Homo sapiens: one gene and its partners. The protein of the gene in region 1 interacts with the protein of each later gene in a biochemical or structural test. Each region holds a gene or a part of one and is shown on either strand. Other genes may lie near its edges. The genes, in order: FBXW7, CUL1, CCNE1 and JUN.

Region 1 (7,035 bases):
CATGAGTCTTTATTTTACAGATAAAGTAATAGGTTCACTGAGATTATATACTCATGGTTATACAGTAAGTGGTATAATCAGAATTCAAACTCAGATGTGAAAAGTTCTTATCACTCTAATATGTTAGGGGAAAACCCATCTCACCCATTGTCCCCATTTCTCCCATTTCCATTATCCTCCCCACATGTTTAAAATTGGGCTAAATTAGGCTGAGTCAATGTTTCATTTTTCCTCCTTCACAAAGGTAGGGGACATGGCTATTCATTGGGCCATGTTTACTAGTGGATGTTATTCAAGATGACTGCCTTAAATAGCATTTTTTGCTCTCTGGACATGTATATACCAAACAGACTTTGAACTTAAGTTGCTTGTCTTGCAGGTAGACTAGGCCAGGGACTTTCTGAAGAAGCTATCATTCTCTAGAACTCTACAACAGAGTGTAACTTAGAGCCCTGTTATATTTCCAATGTTAGCCACATTATCCTACAAAGCTGCTCAGCAGCTCTGGTCCTAGGAGGTGGTTGGAGAATGGCGGACCAGATACCCTGATTGGTTAATGATCCTATTACCTGATTCCTCTATTGTTCAGAATTTATAGACAAGAAAGGGTCTTACGCCTCTAAACTCCAATACACTAGATGCTTCTCCACACCTCCCCCCACCCTCTATTTATTTATTCTGAAACAGGGTCTTGCTCTGTGGCCCAGATCACTGCAGCCTCAACCTCCTGGGCCCAAATGATCCTCCAACCTCAGCCCCCAAAGTAGCTGGAACCACAGGCGCATGCCATCACACTCAGCTAATTTTTGTATTTTTTGTAGAGACAGGGTTTTGCCATGTTGCCCAGGCTGGTCTCAAGCAATCTGCCCACCTCAGCCTCTCAAAGTGCTGGGATCACAGGTGTGAGCCACCACACCTGGCTATCTTTTATATATATTTATTTTTTGATAAACATTTATTTCTTATTTGAGGCAAATGGATAAAAACGATTTAATTACTAGGAAGAATCTAACAATCAAGATGGGAAAAAAATAGACTAATTTGAGGTAAGGAAGTTATGTGAGAAGAGAACAGGTGGAAGCCACTAAGATAGATATGGAAGCATCAGAAATTAATGCTCAAACACACTTCTCTTCATCAAAAGATCAGGATACCAGATCTGGCCTAATAATCATCTCATTTGTTTTTCATGTTAGTAGAAAATTAGTTGATATTCTGCATAAAATATGTCAAAGATTCTTCAATATGAGCTGGGCATATCTTCAGAAAACAACTTTTTTTAAAAAAATATGATAAGGATGTTGAGAATGAGAGTTAAAACTGAAGAGACAGACATTTGTATCTGGAGAAGCAAGATTTAGAGGAATAGCCAGCACACAACCTCTGCTTTAAAAGCATGTTTTATGGATTCAAGAGAGTATGACCTCTATAAAATTTTTTAACAGCGTCATTTGTTCCTGATTACTTTAGCCTTGAGCTGTAAAATCTTCAATAATGTTTTGTTAAGTGCCACAAAGAAAAGTAGTTAACTGAGCCCTCTGTCCTTTCTATAGGGTAGCTCTTATCACTTCAAATGGGACATAGTATCAGAAAATCATCACATGGCAGAGTCTCTGACTATGTTGGAAATCTTGTTCAGTGATGTTTGTCAAATTCAACCATAGGGGGCAGCATAGCATGTGGAAAGAGAAAGGGGTTTTTTGCTATTAGGCAAATCAGGATTAAAATCTCTCATCACGTAGTGTAATCTGGGGTGGATCATTCGGCCTCTCTGTAACTTTTGTTTATGTATCTGTAGTAGGATCTTTCAAACAGTGTGAGCTTAATAAATAGCAATTCTTGACTACCACTTCCCTTGACTTTTAACATTAAGACAACATGGAATTTTTAACATATATTGCTTGCCATAAGGCTCCCAAAAGAACAAACCTTTAGTGACAAGGGGGGAAAAACTGTCCTCAGAGTGTTGACAGTTTTCAGAATGCTTTCAAAGAATAAAGCAATGCAAGGAAGAATTAAAAATCTTTTTTTCTCATTAATATATTTGCTTATGCAGCATATTTAGGGATGATGGGTAAAATTCAGTCTAGCTGTCCACAGGGTTTGTTTATGAGAATGCCAAAAAATAAAACTTGAAAGGTATCCTGAGTAAAATTTGTAGAAAGCTAATCCTATGTTAACATTTAAAATGGGATTTCATTTCTTATGCCTCTACTCTCAAAAGTCAAAGAAGACTTGAATGAAACTATGGTCTAGGGTAACATCTGTAGAAGTGTCTTAACTTTATAATGATCAAGAATTTAAAGCTCTTCCAAAATAAAGTACTTCAACTAGTGAGAGCTTCTATTTATTGTATTAAAACATGTATACACGGAGAATACTGACATTTTCTTTTTAGGTGAAGCAGTACTCAGTGACTTTTTTTAATGCTGTTGAAAGTGCTCTGGGAATACTCTGGCAGAAGGGTTTCAGGAATGGACAAAAAGGAAAACATTTAGAAAAATTTCAGACTGAAATCTTACTTGTAGAAGGGTATCACTGTCCTGGCAATCAAATAGCTTTGTATTCTTCATGCCATACTTACGAAGGCAGATCATCTCATGATCAACAATATATCAAAAACTATACATACACACTTATATAATAAATGCATACACACATCTATACTGTACATGTGTATATACATAAATGCATACACACATCTATACTGTACATGTGTATATACATAAATGCATACACACATGTATTCCTTCTATGGTTAGAGCCCAGTCCATTCTTGTTATATGTACAGGACAATAATTGTTATTCATGATTCAGAATCACTAGAAAAAAACTAACAAATTCAGTATACTTCGTTTTTAAAAAGGTAATCATCATACACAAAATTTTACATCTTGAAGGTAAAGAAAAGATAAAGCACCTGTCAAACTTGTGAACTGGAAGGTTTCCTACAGAATATAAGGATGACTTTTCCTTTTGGAAAAAGATAATGTTTTGTCTAACTAGCTTTTTTTGCTTTTAATTTAAAGTGTAGCAGAAATCAGCAATAACTCTGCATTGTTCCGCAAGGCTTAGTTTTGATTGAACCTCTTTCTGAAATAAGTTAGTGCAATTGGACCTTAAGTATTAAACCCCTATTCCTCTAACTGAACCCTCAGGAAAAAAAGAGATGTTAAAACTCCCTTTTGATATAGCAACCTTGAAGAAGATGATCAAGACTAGGGGGGCAAAAGGGAGGAATGACACTATAAAAGGTCTGAGCCTTAACAAAGTGGTGCTATAGTTGTTAGTGGTAGAGCCATCTGGCTGAGATCCAAAGCTACTGCTTCAACATCTTGAGACAGGGATGGTACAATGGATGAAAAATCACTACTTGATGTCACGTCCTTCTTAGATCATGCCAGCTAAATAAAATCTGACTTGCAGATAGGCTAGGTAAATTAGGGCCAAACACATTTTAGAAAGTAAGGTTTTACAAGCAGATGTAAAACATGATTTAGCATTTCAATTATTATTAATCCAAGTGTGTAAGATACTTCATTCCAAGTCAAGTTAGGTTAAACGATACGATGTTAAATCAGTTTGTATATTGTTTATGGCCTAAAATCACTGTAAAATGTAAGAAATAAGCAAGTAGGAGTAAGAGGATGAACTACCACAGACATTATGTTAATGTCTATAAAACAAGTATATTCAAGTTAAAATGTTCCTTTCCAAAACATAGTTTAACTTGTAAGTCTACTCTACATGAATATTCATTATTTCTAATTCTCAAATGATAAATAACTAGAACTAATTTGAGGCAACTTCTGAGTAATTTATGCCTTAGAGTGACACTTGTGAATAGCCCACTCTAGCAGCTGCATTTTGTAAATAAAAAGTTTCTTCATTACTTGATTTACACAAATCATGTTTCACCCGAAACCTCTACACCCCACACAAGCTACTAATCCCTGCCCGGGACGCAAGGTTTAGACGAAAATTTGATGTTAATAATTTTTCATAGTAATAGGCTCAATTACTTTCCCTCCATTTGTACTCAGATTGTCCCATTATCAGTATTTCTACTTGTAATACTTTCCATTACCTTCTGTAAGACAAAAAACTAGTTCATTTTATTATTACACATCTTAAGATTAATTTTTAGTAATACAAAGACTGTGAGGAAAGTTTCATTACAATTAAAATAGATATGTAAAGTTTCTCAGGTTAACAATATATTGAATATACTCACTTTTGTTGTTTTTGTATAGAATGGGGAGGAGAGTTGGTGAACGGGCAGGTCCACAATACTACTGGAGTTCGTGACACTGTTAGTATGTGTATGTTCATCTTCTCTGCTACTATCATCAGACTGATCAAAATCGTCACTCTCCTGGTCCATCTCCTCCTCCTCCTCATCCTCCTCATCTTGTTCACCAGCATGTTCTTCATCTTCCTCTTGTTCTTCTTGGTTTCCTGAGGAGTCCTCATCTACCGAAATAAATCTATTATTGTTTTCTTCCAACTGTCCTTGCTGGGAATCATTTTGGCCTCCAGGTCTAGGTTCTACTCCAACAACTTCACCATTCCTTGCAGTGTGCTCCTCCTCTTGTTGTCTGAGTTGCTGTTGCTGTTCCTCCTCTACCACACGATTCATCTGTTCTTCATCTACCTGGCTTGAGGAAGGGTTACCTCTCAGAGAGCCTCCAGTTCGTCGTCTTTTGCTGCCCACAGAGAGCAGTTCCTGATTCATTTCCAAAAGCCAGCTTGCTACTTCTTGGACCTTGGCTAGACTATCAGAAGATGCAAAGGTTTTCACATTCTGCAGGGGAAAATAGGGTAAAAAACAAGATTTGTACAATCTATATTATGTTCTACTTTCATGTTATATGTCTACTTTCTAAATATCATTAATGATTGCAAAAAAGTATTGATGCCACCAAGGCATTAAAATGTTCTTTAGTAAACAATATAGAACATTTCAATTTTAAAAGTTATAAGACTTTATAAAGACATGCACAAAAACCATAGTAAACAACACTAATCCCTTTTAATAATTTTTAGCATGAAGATTTATAGTTTAATTCCTTTGACCAATAAAACATAATATTTCAAGCAAATAAAACAATTTTAATTTTACATCAGTAGTTCATAGACTATATCCTATATAAAACTTCCACAAAATTTTAAGAAGTGTATCAAAAAAAATTTTCAGTGTTCAGTTAATTTGGGAAATGCTGAGGTAAATCAGATTAAAAGGCTTTTTACCCTGGGTATTTCCCAAACTTTTCTGATCACAGAATCTTGCCTTCAGACACAGTTTTCTAGCAGGTAACAATTATAATCATTATTATTTTAATTTTTTTACAAATGACTGGACAGAAAATGAACAAAAAATTTATTTAAAAAAAAAGTTCATAAGTTCATACCCTCTGACCCAGTAACTCCACTTCTGGCAATCTATCCTAAGGAAGTAATCCTAAAACAGAAAAAAAAAATTTATACAGAGGATGCTCACTGCAGTTTATCCACGAAAGCAAAAAATAAAGATAAAAATAAATGTAAATAAAAATGTAAATAAAAATCCAAATGTTCAATATAAAGGAATCTATGAGATGGGATATATATGGTGTAATCCCTAAACATGACGTTCATAAAATATTTTTAAAAACATGGATGTTATAATATATTATGCTAAGGGGAAAATGCTGGAAATTGTGATTATAGTATGATTTTTAAACTGTATGAAGACTAGAAGACAACATTTCAAAATAAACTGCATCTTAGGCAGTGGTATTACTGATGCTTTAAACTTACTTCTTTTTATCATATTTCTCAATTTTTATATATCAAGCATGTTTGCCTTTATGTTTTTTAACCTAGGCTCTAGAATTTTATCTGATACAGCATCTTTTCATGATATTCATTCTTACATTTTATCCTTTGCTGGTATCTATATGGACATCTTTGAAGTCAGATAAAATGCCAACATGTTGTGCACACACAAGAAATTATGCACCCGTGATCTAAAACTTGAAACTGCTAACAAATGAAGTATTGTCAATTCTAGTCTTTTTCAGAGAAAACCTTTAGTATGATTTACAACAGTGTATCATAAAACACAAACATCAACAAACAGAAGCCCATATCCTAAAATTTGAGGAAGGTCTTTTATTTCTTCCTACCATAATACAAAATGTCAAGATATATCAAATATTAATATAGAACTTATTATTTTATCGGTAACTGATGTGACTGAACTTGAGTTCAGTAAAATAAAATCTGATGGCTAACAAACAACATTAAGTTGCATGGTTTTCTTGGCAACTGGACATGATGGGAATAGAAATGATTCAAGGTCAGGAAGAATACTAATAAAAGAAATAGAATTTTAAATTGAAAATGTTCCTCACTTTGCAGGCAAGGTAATCAAGGCTCAAAATGATTTAGTAAATTTCTCAAGATTACTAGTTTCAAGTAAAGCAGGGACAAGAATTTAACACCCAACTGAGTCTCCTTTCATGCACCTTAAAGTAACTACATAAAATCCTGAAAGAATATTATTCTCTAACACTGATACTGCCTTCTTTTCCAAAACTCGAATCACTACAATACTCAAAGATTATTACTCTAAAACAAATTATTTGCTGAGCATTCAATATGCTTCCTGTACATGTCAATTTTCTGGAGGATAATGTTTAGAATAATGTCTCTTTCAAGTTAACCAATGACATTTCATCTTTTTTGACCAGAACCCACAGTAAAATTATGTTTAACATCACAACTCTGCATGCATGCATTTAAACATATTAAAACAGTGATTTCAGAGAAAGGGAATTATGAAACATTTCTGGTATCTAAAGTCCCTATAAATCACCACCGTTAATCAAATACAGTTGATTCCCATTCACAGTAATTGTGTTCTATAAAATTGCTGCAACCACTGAATTAACAAATACTGAGCCATTGCTCCTAGGGGAAATACAGTTCTCACAAGCCTCTGGTCACAACACTGTTGCCAACTGATCAATGCATAACCTTTTTTATGCGTGT
Region 2 (7,933 bases), on another chromosome or scaffold:
GAAACCCATCTCAAAAAAAAAAAAAAGCAACCTGATTGAACTAGTTAATGCCAATGTGTGAACAACTATCAAGCACTCCTACCTCCTAGAGCCATTTGCATCTTTAAGAAATGATACTTAAGAATCTTTGGTGGAATTCCAGGCAATAAAAACAAGGCCTTTGTGTATTTGTTTACATAGGCAACTTATAAGTCAAGAGTCGAGAGGATGAGGTCTACCAATACTATGTTTCCCCTTCAGACAGTTTGTGACTTTGGTAAGTGTATTTCTGCATCATACTTTACATCTAGTTACCTCTATTATTACAATCTTGTTTATTTGGCATTTGATGGACCAAAATTAGCTACAAAATCCTTTTTAATGAAACCAAAGTAGGGGATTAGGCCGGGTTACAGTAATGCCTGTAATCCCAGCACTTTGGGAGGCTGAGGTGGGAGGATCACCTGAGTCCAAAAAGTTGAGGCTGCAGTGAGCCATGATCATGCCACTGCACTCCAGCCTGAGCAACAAAGTGAGATCCTGTCTCAAAAAAAAAAAGGACAGAAGGTAAGAAAGAAATTAAACTAGGGGACTTAAACACCTACTTCTTCAAAAAGAATTTAAAAATCTAGGTATAAGAAATCGTTCGATTATTTCATCTCTTTCCAGCTTCCTTTGGATACTAATCTAGTTGAATTACTCTGTATAGTTAGTTACAGCATATACGTAACTACGTTTATAAGCAGAACTATTTTTTTTAAAAAAATCACAAGTAATGTATATTTCATGATTTGGATTAAATAAACAAGTTTAATTGAAAAATTATCATTGTCATAGGTAATATTTATTAAGGATTTAACTTACAACAACCTTATATGAGATACTATTATTATTAATTTTTTGAGGCAGAGTCTCACTCTGTCACCCTAGGCTGGAGTGCAGTGGCGCAATCTCCACTTACTGCAACCTCTGTCTCCTGGGTCCAAACGATTCTCTTGCCTCAGCCTCCTGAGTAGCTGGGATTACAGGTGCATGCCACCACACCCGGCTAATTTTTGTATTCTTAGTAGAGACAGGGTTTCACCTTGTTGGCCAGGCTGGTCACCTCAAGTGATCCACCTGCCTTGGCCTCCCAAAGTGCTGGGATTACAGGCATGAGCCACCATGCCCGGCCAAGCTACTATTATTATCATCCCTATGTCATAGACGAAGAAACTGAGGCACAGAGAGGTTAAGTAACTTGCTCAAAGTTCCCCAGATAATAAGCAACGATGCCAGGATATAAACTCTGGCAGTTTCATGTTCCCTCCCGGCTGCTTCCCACCTACTTTTGATTCAGTAGATCTGGAACAGGGCCCTCGGAATTAGTAAAGTCCCCAGCTGATTCTGAAGCAAAGCCAGGTTTGAGAACCATCCTGCTAATTCACTTTGCGCTGGATGGCTAGTTACTTACCTGTGTCTTAGAAATAACAGTTCATATGGTTAATCAAGTAACACCTGTACCCTTTCATTTCAGTAGTAAGCAAATTTGCTTGGAATCTGCTTCAGTGTTCTTTGGGCACAGTGCTGAGGGGGCAGGTGAACCTTAGGAAATTGTCTCTCACCCCACAGCACAGACCACCTAGTTTAAAGGCACATGTGAACAGGCAATCAGGGAGAGATCACAAAGCTTGGGTAGAAGGTGTAAGGTGGGCTTCCTGGGAGGGGGTGTGAGCTGGATCTTGAAAAGTGAGCATGATTTGGAGATGGAGGAAAGAAGTGGGAAATGGTATCTGTTAAGGGAACAACTGAAGGAGGCCCTCATAAATGGCGACTCACAGCTCATCTGTGGGCCAGTGAGTACAACCAACAGGACCGGATGGCATTGAGAGTTCCTTCTGGGAAGTGGCAGGAAATAAATTTGGAAATGCAAGTTTGGACAAGATCTGGTAAACCTTAAGTGCCAGGTCCAAATTTGGATTGAACACTATAAACAATATGGAACCACTGAAGCTTGAAAGGACAAAATTATAATGATGAAGGTATCAGTTTAGAAGGAATAATCTGCCATCAGTCAGGACACAAGTGGAAGGATAAAGAGATAAGAACCAGGAAAAGCATTTAGAAGGCTAAAGGACCAACATAAGTGTGGGAGAATATCTTAGTAAAGGAGTGGATATACACAGAATCATGAGTCACTGGGTCAGGTTATGCCACTGATCAGGCTGAGTGATTTGGAGCAAATTGCCTAACATCTCTGAGCCTTAGGTTTTTTCATTGAAAAAATGGGTATGATGATGATAATGACTGACCCAAAAGAGGCAAACGATTTCTCTACGATGGTGACAGCTCTGGGATACAAGGTGAACGGGCCAGGATTTTGAGTCTGTTTCCAGGTCTGTATGAATTAAAGAATGTGTTATGAATGGCAACAGAGACAACCACTTTGTGGACGATGAGGAAGGGAGGGGAACTAATGGTTGGTGAATGTTCCACGAATTACGTGGGAATTATAAATAAATTACTCTTCACACTCTTATGAAGTAGGTATTTTTATCTCAAATTAACAGTTGACCTTACTAGAGCAAAAGATAGTAATTTGAGTTACTGGATATGACTCAAATTTGGGTAACTAGATACAAACCAAGGTCTAAAATCTAAAACTTGGGCTTTTCCAGCTAGTACATCATATTTAGATTTGAAAGTTATATTTTATTTCATTGCTTTTGGCCTAATGTTGTAGCCTGTTGAGACTGTTTTGAACTTTGATTCTGACATCTATCAAATTAATTATCCCTCCAAACTTTGGGTCATCCGAGAGAGACATCAATTTTGCTGAGTTGGGGGGTAAAGATGGAGGAAGGATGTTTTAAAGTAGAAAGAGAGCAGCAGGTGGCCTTGACTTGTGAGGTAGGCGGCAAGGTTATCTGCGCAAAGTAAATGCAATCTGGATGTTAAGTGGACGTAAAAGTCGATGGAATAAATTTGCTGCTAAGAATGATCGTGTAGGCAGGTGGAGAGTAAAGAATAGAAAGGAGTTAAGAACCAGGAATGGAGGCAGTGAGAAGAGAGAGGGTGGTGTGGGTGGACCAAATACTGCTATTAAGGAAAAAGAGAGGGTGGAGGAAACAAACAATACAGGGAAGGTTGACCCACTCAGCCCTTCTATTCAGCTGGAGGAAGTCACAGAAAAGGAGGCTATATTGAATGGTAAGATTGGAGAAGACTGGTTAGGGAATAGGAAGATAAGCTGTTGTCTAAAAAACGCAGTCTCCAGTAAAAGGAAGAAATTGGGACATTTTTTTAAAACCCCACATAGGTACACTGGAAAACATGGGCCACAGGGATAAACCTTCCATTTTTACTTCCAACCTTACCATGTGCTCACAAAAAAAGGTGTTAAATACATGTAAGTTTTGACGAGGTTATTTAAAAGTGTAGGATATAAACCAAGAATTTTTCACACCCCAAAACCCCGCACAAATTAAGGGATTACATATCTGAGTGACAAGTACATACAAACGCATTACTTCTAGAGATACTTAGATGTAGATAAAAGACCACATTTCAATAGAAGGATCACACAGACCAGTGGGATGTTTCTTCTGAGATAACCCACTTTATGCAGGAAACAGTGTGGACTCTGGGGACGGCCTCTGCTCTGGCTGAGGATTTCTGTCCCAGAGCGGTACAGGAATCTGCGTAGTGTTTTAGTTTGGAGAAAACAGGAAGTTACACTCATCACATCTTTTGCCCAGATGATAGAATTCGAAATCCCCCCGGGGTTGTTCATGGAATGAGCCGCTCTGTTATGTTGTGAGCCGTGGTATTAATCAGCCACCCCTCACTAGGTGTTGGGGTTCCACCACGCTTCCTCCACCCCCCGTCACCACAGCAGCGGGTAGTATTTAGGTTGAATATTCCAAATAGTCAATTATGACAGTTAATTTCAAATGAGATGACTTCGAAGTACACGTGAAAACAATACTATTTTATATCACGACTCATGCCATCCGTATGTGTAATCAAAGCCTTCTAAGTCTTGATATGTCCTTACAAAGACGAAGGATAGAGTGAATGTCAAAATTTGCCAAACAGGAGTTACTGAAAGTCTGAAGGGGAAAGCCTAGTTAGGTTTTATCTTAGAAGTGATTTTTAAAACGAAACACGCAGATAAGCTCGAGCTTTCTGGAGCCGATTCCTAAGGCCTTGCAGGTGGTAAGGGGGTCGAGAATTGGCTGAGGTTCCTCGGAAGTCCGCGCCGATTCGGAGGGCCACCTCTGACTTTCTGATCTGGGGTGCAACCCCCAGTCCCTGTCCCGGTCGACAAAGGTGTGGAGTCAGGTTCCAGGCAAGCTGGGGGTGGGGGTGCGCACAAGGGAGGGGCAGGGGACTGGGACCCCCTCTTCTTCGGGGTGCTTCGGGCCGTTTCTCCAGAGGCTGGTGGTGTCCCCGACCCAAGCAGCTCAGCCCCGCTCGCGAGGTCCGAAGTGGCGGGAACGGGTCCTCCGCGGCGGTCCCAAGGCGAGGGAGGCTGTAAAACCTGGCAGAGAATCCGGCGCGCCGGGTCGGGGATGTCTCGGGTGCCGGGGGCAGGGGCCGCAGGCTCGCAGGTAGAAGCTTCCCCACGCGAGCGGGGGCCTCGGCCGCGGAAGGGGCGCCCCCGGGGCCGCCGGCAGCGGCGAGCGGGCGGGAGGGAGCTTTCCGGGCCCCTCCCGCGCCTCGGGCTGGCGGGGCGATGGCGACGACGGTTTCCCGGCTCCCCCGCCCCGGACGCCGATGGCGGTGCGTTCCGGCCCTCCCCCAACAGCTTCTCCCCCGCGGTCGCCGGAGCCGGTGAGGCCGAGAGGGCGGGGAGCCGCGCAGGGAAGGCGAGAGGGCGGAGGTTGCGTGGTGCAGGCGGCGGCGGCGGGAGGAGGAGGGCCGGGCGGGCAGGGGAGGAGGAGGAGGCGGGCGCCGTGTCGCACGCAGCTCCAGGCGGGGCAGCCCCGGTAGCTGAGGGACGCAGCTAGACCTTGGCGGGACGGGGCTTTCGCCGGGGCCCAGGCCCAGGGACCAGGCGGAGGCGTCGCGGGAGCCTTTGGGGCACCACAGAGATGCGGGTGAGTGTCGGCAGCCGCCGGGGCCGAGAGGAGGTGGCGGCGGCGGCGGCGGCGCAGGCCCGGCCCCGAGCCGCGGTGTCGCAGTGACTCGGGCCGCGACGGCCGAAACCAGGCGCCTGGCGAGGCCTGAGCCGCCGAAACGCGGCCGGGCAGAATGGCGGCCGGGCCGGGGGACTCGTGGGCGGAGGACGCCGAAGGTGGCAGAGGAGCGAGCGGGGCCGGGCCCTGAGTCACCCCGGACGGGCCGGGGCGGCCAGGCCTGGACTACGCACTGGGAAAAAGCACGATTCATCGCGCCTGGAGGCGGCGGCCTGGTGGCGCCGGCCCCTTTCCCCGCCGCGACCGGGCTGGGTTCTCGGAGGGTGGGCCGACGTGTGGCCCGGGGCGGCTCGGGCGTCCGCGCCTCGCCTGGTGAGGCGACCTCCGCGGGACGCCGGGACCCGTGCCCTTGCCCCCTCGCGCCCACGCTTCTTCCCGGCGCTGCTTTCCGGCCGACGCGTGTTCCCCTGTGAGCTCTGGGCTCAAGCGCAGGAGCAGCCGCGGAGCCGGGCTCTCTCGCTTTCCGGTTCCCTGCCCGCGGCTCTCGGGTTCCCCGCCTGCATTGTTGCGAACGTGCAGGGCGCTATTATTGGGTAACAGTCGCCCTTTTGCCCCGTTCTCCTGGGAGAGCGGGCCGGGGCATGCGCGCAGGGATGCTAGCCCGGCGGCCGAACCGGACAGAGCCCCCCGGCGCCCGCCTATCGCTCGCTAGTCGGGCCGGGCCCTGCGCTGCGGCCTCGGCGCGCCCCCGGTCCCAACGGGAGCGCGCGCCCTGACCCTGAGGGTAGCCGTGCGCCCGCCAGGCCGCTGGGACTTGGGGTCCCCAGACTCGGGGGTCGTCGCTTTTTTTTCCCTTAAGATCTGAAAGACCCCCGTTTCTGCCACCCGTGCAGTATTGTGTAGCGCAGACATAAGATAAGAAAGAGAGGAATGCTTGTAGACATTCCTTGAAATGAATCCCCAAAGTTAGGGTTTTCTCCCTGGCTGGCTTTGCCAAAAAGAGGATTCTCTTTTCCGATTGGGTCACTCTTGGTTGCTTCTGGTTCGTAGTAGGGGTTAGTGGTAAGTGCGCAAATACTGAATTGCAGTCTACTTAAATATTTGTTTGCTCTGTGTAATTGCTCTTTCCTGTAGTAGCATTAAAATCGTCAAAAGTTCTGAGTGGAGTAAACGATCACACTTTTTGGAATGCACTTAACGAAGCGGCAGAAGAGGAACTAGATTCCTTTTTTACTTCAAGCCATGAGCTTCTAGGACCTAAGCATAGCTTAACGCCTCGCAGAAGTGTGTGCAGTTTTAAGTTTAACACTTCATTTCATGGTGCACCCGAAAATGTACCCGATTTTCTGAAATCCTGGAGAGTGTATTACGTAGTAAAATATGTAATGATGTTTAAAATGTAAAACCAGTCATTCTGTTTGAAAAAGATATTTGGAGATGAGATTTTTCTTTGTTTAAAGAAGGTTTGTTTTTGGATATTGAAAAATGTTTTACTTGAAGGTTCTATTTGTTGTTTTCCATGGTGAGTCGAAATAGTTGCGTTACATTTCAAATTCCAAAGCATGCAAACACAAGACTGGCTCGCTTTAACTCTATTAATGCCCATTTTTGGAGGTTTCAGGAGAGTGTTCCTTAAGCTTGAGAGGGATGGCTGAATTGCTTTCTAAATATGTTAAACTTTTTTTCTCATTGGCTTCATCTTTTAAAAACGATTTTGTCAAAAAACAAACCAAATTTAGATATGCTAGGGTTTTTCACCAATTTATAAAAGCCTCCCTCCCTGAGAGCCACATGCTCAGGTCCTTATAGCCAGCCCCACCCCCCACTCCTAATGTGTGTACCACATCAGAAGACAGACACGCATGCCTGAGCTGATTCTGCATGGTTTCCTTAGATATTACAGTTCATTAGACTCTTGCCACTTACTGAATATTATCTTCTAGCTGTAATTAACTACATGACAGCCTTATTTCCCATACATTTCCGATTGTGAATTCCTCCAGCGCAGGAGATATTCCTTATTTGTTTTTGCGTCCCCAGAGTAACAGAACTTGGTTGTGGTGGTGCCTCAGTTGCTTTTTTTTAATGAATGAGTTTTCTGGAATAATTCTAACTTAAACTTAACGTTTGAAAACATGCGCTGATTTTTGGCTACAGAAAACACAGTCGTTGTGCTTAAGCCGGTTAAGAATTCAAGCTTTATTATACACTTCTCGAGTAAAATTGATCGTCTCTCTCATCCCTCCTTTTCTATTCCCCCTTCCCTCTTCACTTCCCTTCTCCCTGAAACACCCCAGTATCTAGTACAGGGCCCTAACAGAAAAATGCCCAGGTTTTCTATACCTATGGAAGTCTGGGAAAGTGCCAAGAAAACAGGTTGTGAAACTTTAACTTTTTTCCCCCTTAAAACTAGTTTTAAGGTGTGGATGTTTTTACTTTTTGTGTTTGGTGTTTTTTTGGAAACACGATCAGGTTTTTCCCCCCAGGTTGAGTATCCAGCCTTGCCTTTGCAATGAAGCAGTTTGGTAGTTAAGGCTCCTCCTTGTAGATGAGGCAAGCCCCATGGTTCTGCTGGAGTGGGATAGGAAGTTGCTGTAGGAGGAACCATCCCTTGGTCTCTGAGGGCCATTCATCAGAATGTCATTCCCAGTATACCCAGTGGTGTCTGTCTTTCAGCATGGAAAATTAAAATGAATGTACTTTAAATTGAGGAGTTGTTACTTGCCATTCTTCAAATTAAAAATATTAGGGCCTTAAAAACTTAGGAACTTGGTTTTTTGTTTGTTTTGCTGTTTCAGCCTTCCGTAGGTCCTAAAGCCAGTGACCTTGAGTCA
Region 3 (2,857 bases), on another chromosome or scaffold:
TTCTCAATCATCGGTCTCTTTTCTCTCTGTTTTCCTTTAGGCCCTTAAGTGGCGTTTAAGTCCCCTGACTATTGTGTCCTGGCTGAATGTATACATGCAGGTTGCATATCTAAATGACTTACATGAAGTGCTACTGCCGCAGTATCCCCAGCAAATCTTTATACAGATTGCAGAGGTAAGTGGCTCCATCACGTCCGTGGGGCCACCTTCCCTGCAGCTGGAGTGAGGAACTCTAGAATAGGCGTGTGGTGGCATCCATCTCAGCGTTCTTTTCTTCTCCGTAGCTGTTGGATCTCTGTGTCCTGGATGTTGACTGCCTTGAATTTCCTTATGGTATACTTGCTGCTTCGGCCTTGTATCATTTCTCGTCATCTGAATTGATGCAAAAGGTTTCAGGTAAGTTGGCTTTCCAGTGCATGCACAAACAAGGTGTACTAAGCTTACATCCAGTTGTCAGCCTCAGATTAAGCCCACGATGTCTTCACTGCAGGGTATCAGTGGTGCGACATAGAGAACTGTGTCAAGTGGATGGTTCCATTTGCCATGGTTATAAGGGAGACGGGGAGCTCAAAACTGAAGCACTTCAGGGGCGTCGCTGATGAAGATGCACACAACATACAGACCCACAGAGACAGCTTGGATTTGCTGGTCAGTGCTGCTCCTTCTTTCAGTCCTTCTTGGCCAAATTCTTAAAACTGCCTAAATAGGCCAGCCGCGGTGGTTCAGGCCTGTAAACCCAGCACTTTGGGAGGCCGAGGTGGGCCGATCACTTGAGGCCAGGAGTTCAAGACCAGCCTGGCCAACATGGTGAAACCTTGTCTCTACTAAAAATAAAAAAATTAGCCGGCTATGGTGGTGGGCACCTGTAGTCCCAGCTACTCGAGAGGCTAAGGCAGGAGAATCATCTGAACCCGGGAGGCGGAGGTTGCAGTGCGTTGAGATCACGCCACTGCACTCCAGCCTGGGCAACAGAGCGAAACTATGTCTCAAAAAAAAAAAAACTGCCTAAATAACCTGTTCACTTTTCTTCAGGCAGGCCCCAAATATCCTTGAAAAACTCCAATTTTAATTAATTGAAAAAGAAAAATCCTGGCAAATTGATGCTGTATCTCACTATCATATAGACTATAGAGTTTTAAAGTGCTCTTTGATATTTTTTTTTCTTTCACTCACCTCCGTAGAAAAAGACATAGTGGCCAGACACAGTGGCTTTTGGAGGCCAAGGCAGAAGGACTGCTTAAGCTCAGAAGTTTGAGACTAGCCTGGACAACATAGGGAGACCCTGTCCCTAAAAAATTTAAAAACTAGCCAGGCATGGTGGCACATGTCTGTAGTCCCAGCACTTTGGGAGGCGGAGGCGGGCAGATCGCCTGATATCAGGAGTTCAAGACTAGCCAGGCCAAAATGGCGAAACCCTGTCTCTATGAAAAATACAAAAATTAGCTGGACATGGTGGCGGGTGCCTATAATCTCAGCTACTCTACTTGGGAGGCTGAGGCGGGAGAATCGGTTGAACCCTGGAAGTGGAAGTTGCAGTAAGCCGAGATCCCACCACTGTACTACAGTCTGGATGAGAAAGCAAGTCTCCATCTTGAGAAAAAAAAAAAATTTAAAAATTAAAAAAGAAAAAGCCTATGGTAATTGAAGCCCAAGGATATGTTCTACTCTAATGTGTTGTCCCTTTTATTCTTACCAACAGGACAAAGCCCGAGCAAAGAAAGCCATGTTGTCTGAACAAAATAGGGCTTCTCCTCTCCCCAGTGGGCTCCTCACCCCGCCACAGAGCGGTAAGAAGCAGAGCAGCGGGCCGGAAATGGCGTGACCACCCCATCCTTCTCCACCAAAGACAGTTGCGCGCCTGCTCCACGTTCTCTTCTGTCTGTTGCAGCGGAGGCGTGCGTTTGCTTTTACAGATATCTGAATGGAAGAGTGTTTCTTCCACAACAGAAGTATTTCTGTGGATGGCATCAAACAGGGCAAAGTGTTTTTTATTGAATGCTTATAGGTTTTTTTTAAATAAGTGGGTCAAGTACACCAGCCACCTCCAGACACCAGTGCGTGCTCCCGATGCTGCTATGGAAGGTGCTACTTGACCTAAGGGACTCCCACAACAACAAAAGCTTGAAGCTGTGGAGGGCCACGGTGGCGTGGCTCTCCTCGCAGGTGTTCTGGGCTCCGTTGTACCAAGTGGAGCAGGTGGTTGCGGGCAAGCGTTGTGCAGAGCCCATAGCCAGCTGGGCAGGGGGCTGCCCTCTCCACATTATCAGTTGACAGTGTACAATGCCTTTGATGAACTGTTTTGTAAGTGCTGCTATATCTATCCATTTTTTAATAAAGATAATACTGTTTTTGAGACAGCTGGTTTTATGAGCTATGTCTGGTAACTTAAGGTAGCAGTCAGCTTTAATTGTGGTTATATCAACTTCTGTTTTTTGACTTCATACTTCTTGAGGCTCAAGTCTTTCTTTTTTTTTTTTTTTTTTTTTTTTTTTTTTGAGACAGGGACAGGGTCTCGCTCTGTCACCAAGGCTGGAGTGCAGGGGCACAATCTTGGCTCACTGCAGCCTCTGCCTCCCGGGTTTAAGCGATTCTCCTGCCTCAGCCTCCTAAGTAGCTGGGACTACAGGCGTGTGCCACCACACCCAGCTAATTTTTGTATTTTTAGTGGAGATGGGGTTTTGCCATGTTGGCCAGGCTGGTCTCAAACTCCTGACCTCAGGTGATCTGCCCATCTCAGCCTTCCAAAGTGCTGGGATTACAGGTGTGAGCCACCACACCCAGCCTTGAGTCTTAACTCTTTTGGTCAAATACATTTTTCAATGTATTTGATGGAAAGGAAACTTTAGACGTGGGCTTC
Region 4 (7,416 bases), on another chromosome or scaffold:
ACTTTGAAATGTTTGACTTCTCAGTGGGCTGTCCCTCTCCACTGCAACCCCCCTTCCTCCAGCCTCCTGAAACATCGCACTATCCTTTGGTAAGCAATTCCATATAGATAGCTGGGGGAGGAGGAGTATAACCTGACCATAGCATCAGGTACATCAGGTACATTTATTTCTAAAGTCTAATAGAGAACAGTTTTTACTGCTTAATAGTAAGAAGCACTGAGAGTGATTTTAATCGACATTCTTAACTCTTTCAACTCCACCTAGATAGCTAGTATCTACAGATGATGCAGAAAAGAGGTTAGGGGAGTACTTTCCAATAGTTTATTGTATTTTCTTAAATATCCTTTCTGGAATTTTCAGAAACAAAACATAAAAAAATTATATACTTTATTACAAATGGTAAACTCAGAGTGCTCCAAATCTCTTATTTACAAACAACACTGGGCAGGATACCCAAACAAACAAACAAGAAATAACTTACAAAGGCATGAAGCTGTTTATTGACAGTAATCAGCTTTCATCAAATTAAAAAATATATATATGTACATACACAGTTAACGAAGGCAGGCCAGAAAGAGTTCATCTGTAGGCTCAGCCTCGCTCTCACAAACCTCCCTCCTGCCGCCCCTCCCCAACCCTCCCCCCGCTTTGTGTTCTTAAGGAGTACTACAGAAGCAATCTACAGTCTCTATTGCAGTTTGTAACCCCCTCCCCCTCCCCCCTTTAATACTGAATGAGATCGAATGTTAGGTCCATGCAGTTCTTGGTCAATGTTAACGAAAAGTCCAACGTTCCGTTCGCGCGGGGACAGCCCGTCCGCAAAGCGGGGCAGCCCGCAGGCGGCCGCTCCCTGGCTCCACGCCAAGGGAGGGCGCGCCAAGTCCTTCCCACTCGTGCACACTGGGGGCGCCGTCAGGACGCAACCCAGTCCAACTTGGATACCCTTGGCTTTAGTTCTCGGACACTTCTTTTTTCTCTCCGTCGCAACTTGTCAAGTTCTCAAGTCTGTCTCTCTGTGTTATTTTTTTTCTTCGTTGCCCCTCAGCCCCCGACGGTCTCTCTTCAAAATGTTTGCAACTGCTGCGTTAGCATGAGTTGGCACCCACTGTTAACGTGGTTCATGACTTTCTGTTTAAGCTGTGCCACCTGTTCCCTGAGCATGTTGGCCGTGGACGCCAGCTCCGAGTTCTGAGCTTTCAAGGTTTTCACTTTTTCCTCCAGCCGGGCGATTCTCTCCAGCTTCCTTTTTCGGCACTTGGAGGCAGCGATGCGGTTCCTCATGCGCTTCCTCTCCGCCTTGATCCGCTCCTGGGACTCCATGTCGATGGGGGACAGGGGCGGTGTCTCGCCGGGCATCTCGGGCACTGTCTGAGGCTCCTCCTTCAGGGCCTGCAGCCGCGGGTGCTGCACGGGCATCTGCTGGGGCAGGTGGTGCGGCGGCTGCTGCTGCTGCTGGGGTTGCGCGGGAAAGGCCAGGCCGGCCGCGCCGTAGGAGGGCGCCCCGCCGCCGCTGCTCAGCGCGCCTGGGTTGAAGTTGCTGAGGTTTGCGTAGACCGGCGGCTCGCTGTGCAGGCTGGCGCTGAAGCCGCCGCTGCCGCTGCCCCCTGCCACCGAGGCTACCGCGGGAGCCACCATGCCTGCCCCGTTGACCGGCTGCGCCGCCGACGTGACGCTGGGCAGCGTGTTCTGGCTGTGCAGTTCGGCCAGGGCGCGCACGAAGCCCTCGGCGAAGCCCTCCTGCTCATCTGTCACGTTCTTGGGGCACAGGAACTGGGTGGGGGTCGGCGTGGTGGTGATGTGCCCGTTGCTGGACTGGATTATCAGGCGCTCCAGCTCGGGCGACGCCAGCTTGAGCAGCCCCACGTCGGGCGAGGTGAGGAGGTCCGAGTTCTTGGCGCGGAGGTGCGGCTTCAGGCTCCCCACTGGGTCGGCCAGGTTCAGGGTCATGCTCTGTTTCAGGATCTTGGGGTTACTGTAGCCATAAGGTCCGCTCTCGGACGGGAGGAACGAGGCGTTGAGGGCATCGTCATAGAAGGTCGTTTCCATCTTTGCAGTCATAGAACAGTCCGTCACTTCACGTGAGGTTAGTTTGGGCTGCGCGCACAAGTTTCGGGGCCGCAACAGGGCTGTGGCAAGCGGGGGACACCCGCGCCCCCCGGAGCCTTTGACAGGGAAAGTTTCTCTAAGAGCGCACGCACCCGCTGGCTGTCGTCCCCGCTGCGCCCTCCTCACCAGCTCGCTCCAGGGAGCGCAGGGTTAATTAAGATGCCTCCCGCACTCTTACTTGTCGACTCGCGCGCGCTACCCGGCTTTGAAAAGTCGCGGTCACTCACTGAGCGCTCTTCGTGCGCAGCGGTTCCTCGGAGTCCGCAGGCGAACTCACTTCCCAGAGCAGCGGCTCTCCCCGCGGAGCGGATCAGTGCGGACCCTGCAGTGGCCGGCCGGCGGCGGGTCTTGGCCGCCCGGACTCCGACGACTTGTCCCCTCCTCCGCTGCTAGGGGGAGGGGGCGCCCGGCAGCCGCGGCTCGCGCTCGCCCAAGTTCAACAACCGGTGCGAGCGAAGCTGAGCGCACGTCCTTCTTCTCTTGCGTGGCTCTCCGCCGCCTTCTGGTCTTTACCGCCGTGGAGAAGCCTAAGACGCAGGAAAGGCTTGCAAAAGTTGGCTCCGGGACTCTGCCACTTGTCTCCGGTCCTCCCAGCCGGGAAAGTTCTTTGCTGCTGCAGCCGCTCGCCGACTTCCCCCGGCGGGCGCGTGGGTACCGCTGCTTTCCGCCGCTGTCAACAGCGCCTGGGCAGCAGGGCTCTCCTCCCGGGGGCGGCTGGAGACCAGGCTCTCTGGACACTCCCGAAACACCAGCCCGGGAGCCACAGGCGCTAGCTCTGGGCAGTTAGAGAGAAGGTGAAAAGAAAATAAGATTTGCAGTTCGGACTATACTGCCGACCTGGCTGGCTGGCTGTGTCTGTCTGTCTGCCTGACTCCGCGCACCTCCACTCCCGCCTCGCTGCTTCAGCCACACTCAGTGCAACTCTGAGCCCTTATCCAGCCCGAGCTCAACACTTATCTGCTACCAGTCAACCCCTAAAAATAGCCCATGATGTCACCCCAAGGCCTTCCCATTGGCTCGCGTCGCTCTCAGGGGGGCGGGCCCGCCCGTCACCATGGAGACTCCACCCTAGAAGATTCTTCTCTGGGCCCGCGGAGGCTCACGGGATGAGGTAATGCTCCGCTGCCCTCCTACAGTCGGGCCCTTCTTTCTCCTACCCTCCCCCCTGCCGCACGCCTCTCGGCCCTCTCTTCCCCGGTCCCCTCCCCGGGCCGTTTTTCCCGGCCCGCCCGGTGCATTGTGGGCTGACGTCTTGGGGTTTGACTGTCTAGTGACGGTGGCTGCCGCGAGCGGGCGGACGCTCGCAACCTCTGATGGAGGGGGGCTCAAGTTCACGGCTGCGGACGGGGATGCGGGGGATGCAGGGACCCGGGAGGCCAGGGAACCTGGCCAGTTGTTTTGGGCCAGGGGTGCGGGCGAGGGGTGGTTGTTGTTTCCCCACTTGTGGGGCCCGAAGTCATCCACCGGCGGCCGCCACCGCGCGGGGCTGGAGGCTGAGAATCCAAGTACGCTGCCACCCCCCCGCACTTCCGGGGGGGCGGGAATACCGCCCTTAAGGTGGCTCTGTGAAGTCCCAGGTGGGGGCGAGCCTAAGGGGACTTAAGTTTAGGGGCGGTCTCCCGAGAGTCGGCCCCCCACGTTGAGAACACTCCGAAGTTTGCATCTCGGTCAAGTTCAGGAGCGACGGTCCGCGGGGTCGTCTGGCTGCTCGTAGAAGCCGAGAGATTTGTATTGCCCGAAACTGGACGCTCAGCTGAGTCTCCGTTGCACCCCACTTCATCCTCCGGGACCGTGGGGGAAAGGGCGCGGGGGTTCACAGCTTTGCCTCGGAGGGGCAGTTTTTATAGTGGGCGCAATTGGTGGGTAACAGGGTCCAGATGGGAACAAGCGTGTAGGCGATCCGAAACTCGGGGAACCCCGGTGTTAGTCTACTCCCCCTCCCGCCCCCGGACAACACGCACACGCTTAACACAACACGCACAACATAACGCGCGCGCGCGCGCACACACACACTCCATCCGCGCCGAGTTGCTTCCGGGAAAACAAGCCCAGAAGGCGGCGGACACTCGCATAAAGTCACGCAGTAGTACTCGGAGCCCGGGGTAGAACCTGGACTTCAAATCTCTGCACTCCCGGCCGGGTGGTGGGCGCATATCCTGGGTAGCCTCTAGGAAGCGCTAGACACATGTAAGTGGTTCCTTTTCCGCGGTTATTTTATTCTCCCCCCGCCCCCCACCCCTTAGGGACGAAAGTGTGTGGTGGAAAGAATCCCGAAGTCGGGAATCCTGGTTCTTTCGTGGCCAGGCTACCACAGTGTGAAGCAAGCAAATCACGGAACTCCTCCGAGCTTCATTTCCCTCATCTGCAGGTGGGGCCGGTGCCGTCCACCTCACTGGGCTGCCAGGAGTTAGTGTGACAGGGTCGCCTGCAGCACTAGGGAGGTGGTGGCCAAACAGCCCGCTTCCCTCCCCTGCCTCGCAGTTTCCATCCTCGCAGAGCCTGGATAGGATGCCAGGATATAAGAGTGCGATTTGGCAGGACCAGGTGTACTTTCCTGTGAGAAGCATCGAGGGGAGGAGGGGAGGGGGAACCGGGTTAGAAGTCAGATCTTTCCCAAGCCTCTGTCTAAAACTGGGGCTTGAAGTTGGACCTGCAGCAGTTTAAGTTCCTAGGTTCTAAATTCAGACTTCGCTGCTTCTGAACTTGGAATTCAGCCTTGGGTTCATTGCCCCCAGCCCTAAGGTATTTGCGGCTTTGAGTGTTCAGAAACCAACAGCAGCTGGTATCAGTGGGAAACCTGCCAACTTTTCTTCACTCCGGGCACTCACCTAGCTTTCACTGATCTGCAGAGGGTAACTGAAAGCCTACTGTGAGCCAGGCACTGAGCTGGGGAGGGGGTGGGGTAGGTAGGTATACAGTGATGACAAGATCCAGTTGCTTCCTCAAGGAGAGAACATTCTCCTCTGTCTGTTGCCCTGAATCATTTTCTGTTGTATTCAGGGAGTTGGTGTTCTAAATATTTTTTAATAACAGTAATAAAAATCAGTTTCATGTATTAAACACTTATTATCTGCCAGGCATTCTCCTAAGCAATTTAAATACGCTGTTTTCTCCCCACAACTGTCTTGAGAGACATATATTATTATCCAGATTTAACATGTGAGGAAATAGGCCCAGAGAGGTTAAGTATCTTTGTTGAGGTCACACAGGCAGCTGGAAATTGACCTCAGGTCTGTGTTACATTCCTTTGTATTTTCTCTACTCTGGCAAACTTTCTTGTGGAGTATTAGTTATCTGCAGAGGAAATAGCGCTTGTGGCATAGAAGAAATTTTCTTGCCTGATCCTCTGACTGTAACTCCGTTCAGAGCTCTTGTATTTAGAAATTTCAAGACTTAGGACTTTGCATAAATATATATCTTTTGCCTAAGGTTCTGTGTGTTCCTCTCTGCCTCATGTGGTTTAGTAGGCTGATCTTCTCCTTATGTTGAGAAATAGCATATTTCATCCAAAAAAATAACAAATCTGTTCATGTTAACGCCCCTGCTTGGAAGCCTTCATTGGCTTTTCCTTACAATCAGGAGAGTTCCGATTCCTATGCCTTGGAGAAGGGGCTTTTCACAATCCAACTCCTTCTCTCTCCAGCCTTATCTCTCACTCCCAGTTCTGTCAGGAAAGGCAGTGTTATGCTGCCCTAACAAACAACCCTAACATATCAGTGGCTTATTCCAGTGAAAGTTGGTCATTTCTGCTACATGACCGTTGTAGGTTGGCAGGGTAGCTCTGCTCATTGTAGTCACTAAAGGGCTCAGGCTGAAGGAGGCCTCGTGTTGATACCCCTTTTCACAGCTATCCTGACTGTGGGGAAGGAACTCGGAACATCATGGCTGTCAGAGCATCCACTTATGGCACACATCACTTCTGCCCATACATCATTGGCCAAAGCAGTCACATGGCCATGCCTCTTTAGATCACTATAATCCTACCAGGTGTCTCAAAGGGCTCTCCAGGAATATTTGGGGAATAACACTAAAGACTCTGTCTCCCTTTCTGTTCACCAAATGTTTGGTCTACTCTCCTTCCCCTGGTGGAATTCCCTCATTCTTTATTCAAGGGAAACAACCTTAAAGACCCATCCAGTCACAGCACCAAGCTGCCCTGCCCATTGTTTTCCATGACTCCTGGATTTGCCCTCGGAGAGTCTTCCTTTTCCACAGCTAAAGCAGGCATTGGAAAATATGCTTTTAAATAAGCTTTTAAAAGTTGGGGAGATGCAGAGTGACATTAAGTCTTGAATATGTGTAGGTAGGCTTCTTATCTATCTGATATGAGGTGTTCCATGTGACAATAGCCACAAAGTTCTTTTCCAGACATACTTCTTTGGTTTGCCATATCTCTTTGCTTTCCTGCTCTCCTGCCTGTTGACTCCTCTGTCTCTCTTTTGCCGTCTCACTCTCTTGCTCTTCACTTGATTTTGAGCACTTTGGGCTTATTGGGTTTTGATGGGAGAGTTAGACCTTTCTTCCTTTTCCCAGAGCCATTTTGTCCAGTTGAAAGTATATACTGGGTAAGATCTTAATTGATCCTTTTTTTTTTTTTTCTGAGACGGAGTTTCACTCTTGTTGCCCTGGTTGGAGTGCAATGGCACAGTCTCGGCTCACTGCAACCTCTACCTCCCGGGTTCAAGCGATTCTCCTGCCTCAGCCTCCTGAGTAGCTGGGATTACAGGCATGCGCCACCACGCCCGGCTAATTTTGTATTTTTAGGAGCGACAGGATTTCTCCATATTGGTCAGGCTTGTCTCGAACTCCCGACCTCAGGTGATCCGTCCTCCTCGGCCTCCTATCCTGAGGTTTTAATAGTAGGTTCATACTTTGTGACTTGATCCTTACTTCAAAGCTTAGTTTCTTCCAGGTCCTTTCTTGCTAAAAGTATTTCTTGATTTTATATTTTACCAGTCGGGACTGGGAAACAATTGCCTCTTCTAACGATGTAAATCCCTGGATTTATAGGTTTTCTCTATTCCATTTCATTCCTGATTGCAAACAGGCCAAATTTTTCTGAGTTCATCTTTGAATAGCTTGTAGTAACTTTCAGAATGCATCCAACAGCCACCAACACACACTACTCACTCTCTGTTTTACAATCCTTTTCTTTAGTTCATCAGGTTCATGATCTGCCTTCTACATTATCACAGGTGATATGTTTACCAAACAGATCACCATCCCTTCAGCTTCTGATAGCAGTGTTCTTAGTTATCGCCCTCTAAATGATTGTTTAGTTTTATTGTTGTTATGCTTATTGTTGTTATT

The links.
Region 2: the proteins of FBXW7 (region 1) and CUL1 form a complex in vitro, tested with the Homo sapiens proteins (3 studies listed by BioGRID).
Region 3: of the proteins of FBXW7 (region 1) and CCNE1, one has a biochemical effect on the other in vitro, tested with the Homo sapiens proteins (18 studies listed by BioGRID and IntAct, with this or other methods).
Region 4: the proteins of FBXW7 (region 1) and JUN form a complex in vitro, tested with the Homo sapiens proteins (3 studies listed by BioGRID, with this or other methods).

Annotation. Positions count from the first base shown.
Region 1 is NC_000004.12:152,407,069-152,414,103, forward strand, and holds part of FBXW7 (F-box/WD repeat-containing protein 7), read right to left. Parts: intron 5,462-7,035; 5' UTR 5,412-5,461; intron 4,805-5,411; 5' UTR 4,736-4,804; coding exon 4,235-4,735; coding exon of another isoform or gene 4,205-4,234; exon of another isoform or gene 4,092-4,204; intron 1-4,091. UniProt on the Homo sapiens protein: Substrate recognition component of a SCF (SKP1-CUL1-F-box protein) E3 ubiquitin-protein ligase complex which mediates the ubiquitination and subsequent proteasomal degradation of target proteins.
Region 2 is NC_000007.14:148,693,970-148,701,902, forward strand, and holds the start of CUL1 (cullin-1), read left to right. Parts: upstream 1-4,933; 5' UTR 4,934-5,060; intron 5,061-5,740; exon of another isoform or gene 5,741-6,161; intron 6,162-7,933. UniProt on the Homo sapiens protein: Core component of multiple cullin-RING-based SCF (SKP1-CUL1-F-box protein) E3 ubiquitin-protein ligase complexes, which mediate the ubiquitination of proteins involved in cell cycle progression, signal transduction and transcription.
Region 3 is NC_000019.10:29,821,956-29,824,812, forward strand, and holds the end of CCNE1 (G1/S-specific cyclin-E1), read left to right. Parts: intron 1-40; coding exon 41-175; intron 176-284; coding exon 285-396; intron 397-490; coding exon 491-648; intron 649-1,699; coding exon 1,700-1,822; 3' UTR 1,823-2,357; downstream 2,358-2,857. UniProt on the Homo sapiens protein: Essential for the control of the cell cycle at the G1/S (start) transition.
Region 4 is NC_000001.11:58,781,013-58,788,428, forward strand, and holds the start of JUN (transcription factor Jun), read right to left. Parts: upstream 3,036-7,416; 5' UTR 2,059-3,035; coding exon 1,063-2,058; 3' UTR 1-1,062. UniProt on the Homo sapiens protein: Transcription factor that recognizes and binds to the AP-1 consensus motif 5'-TGA[GC]TCA-3'.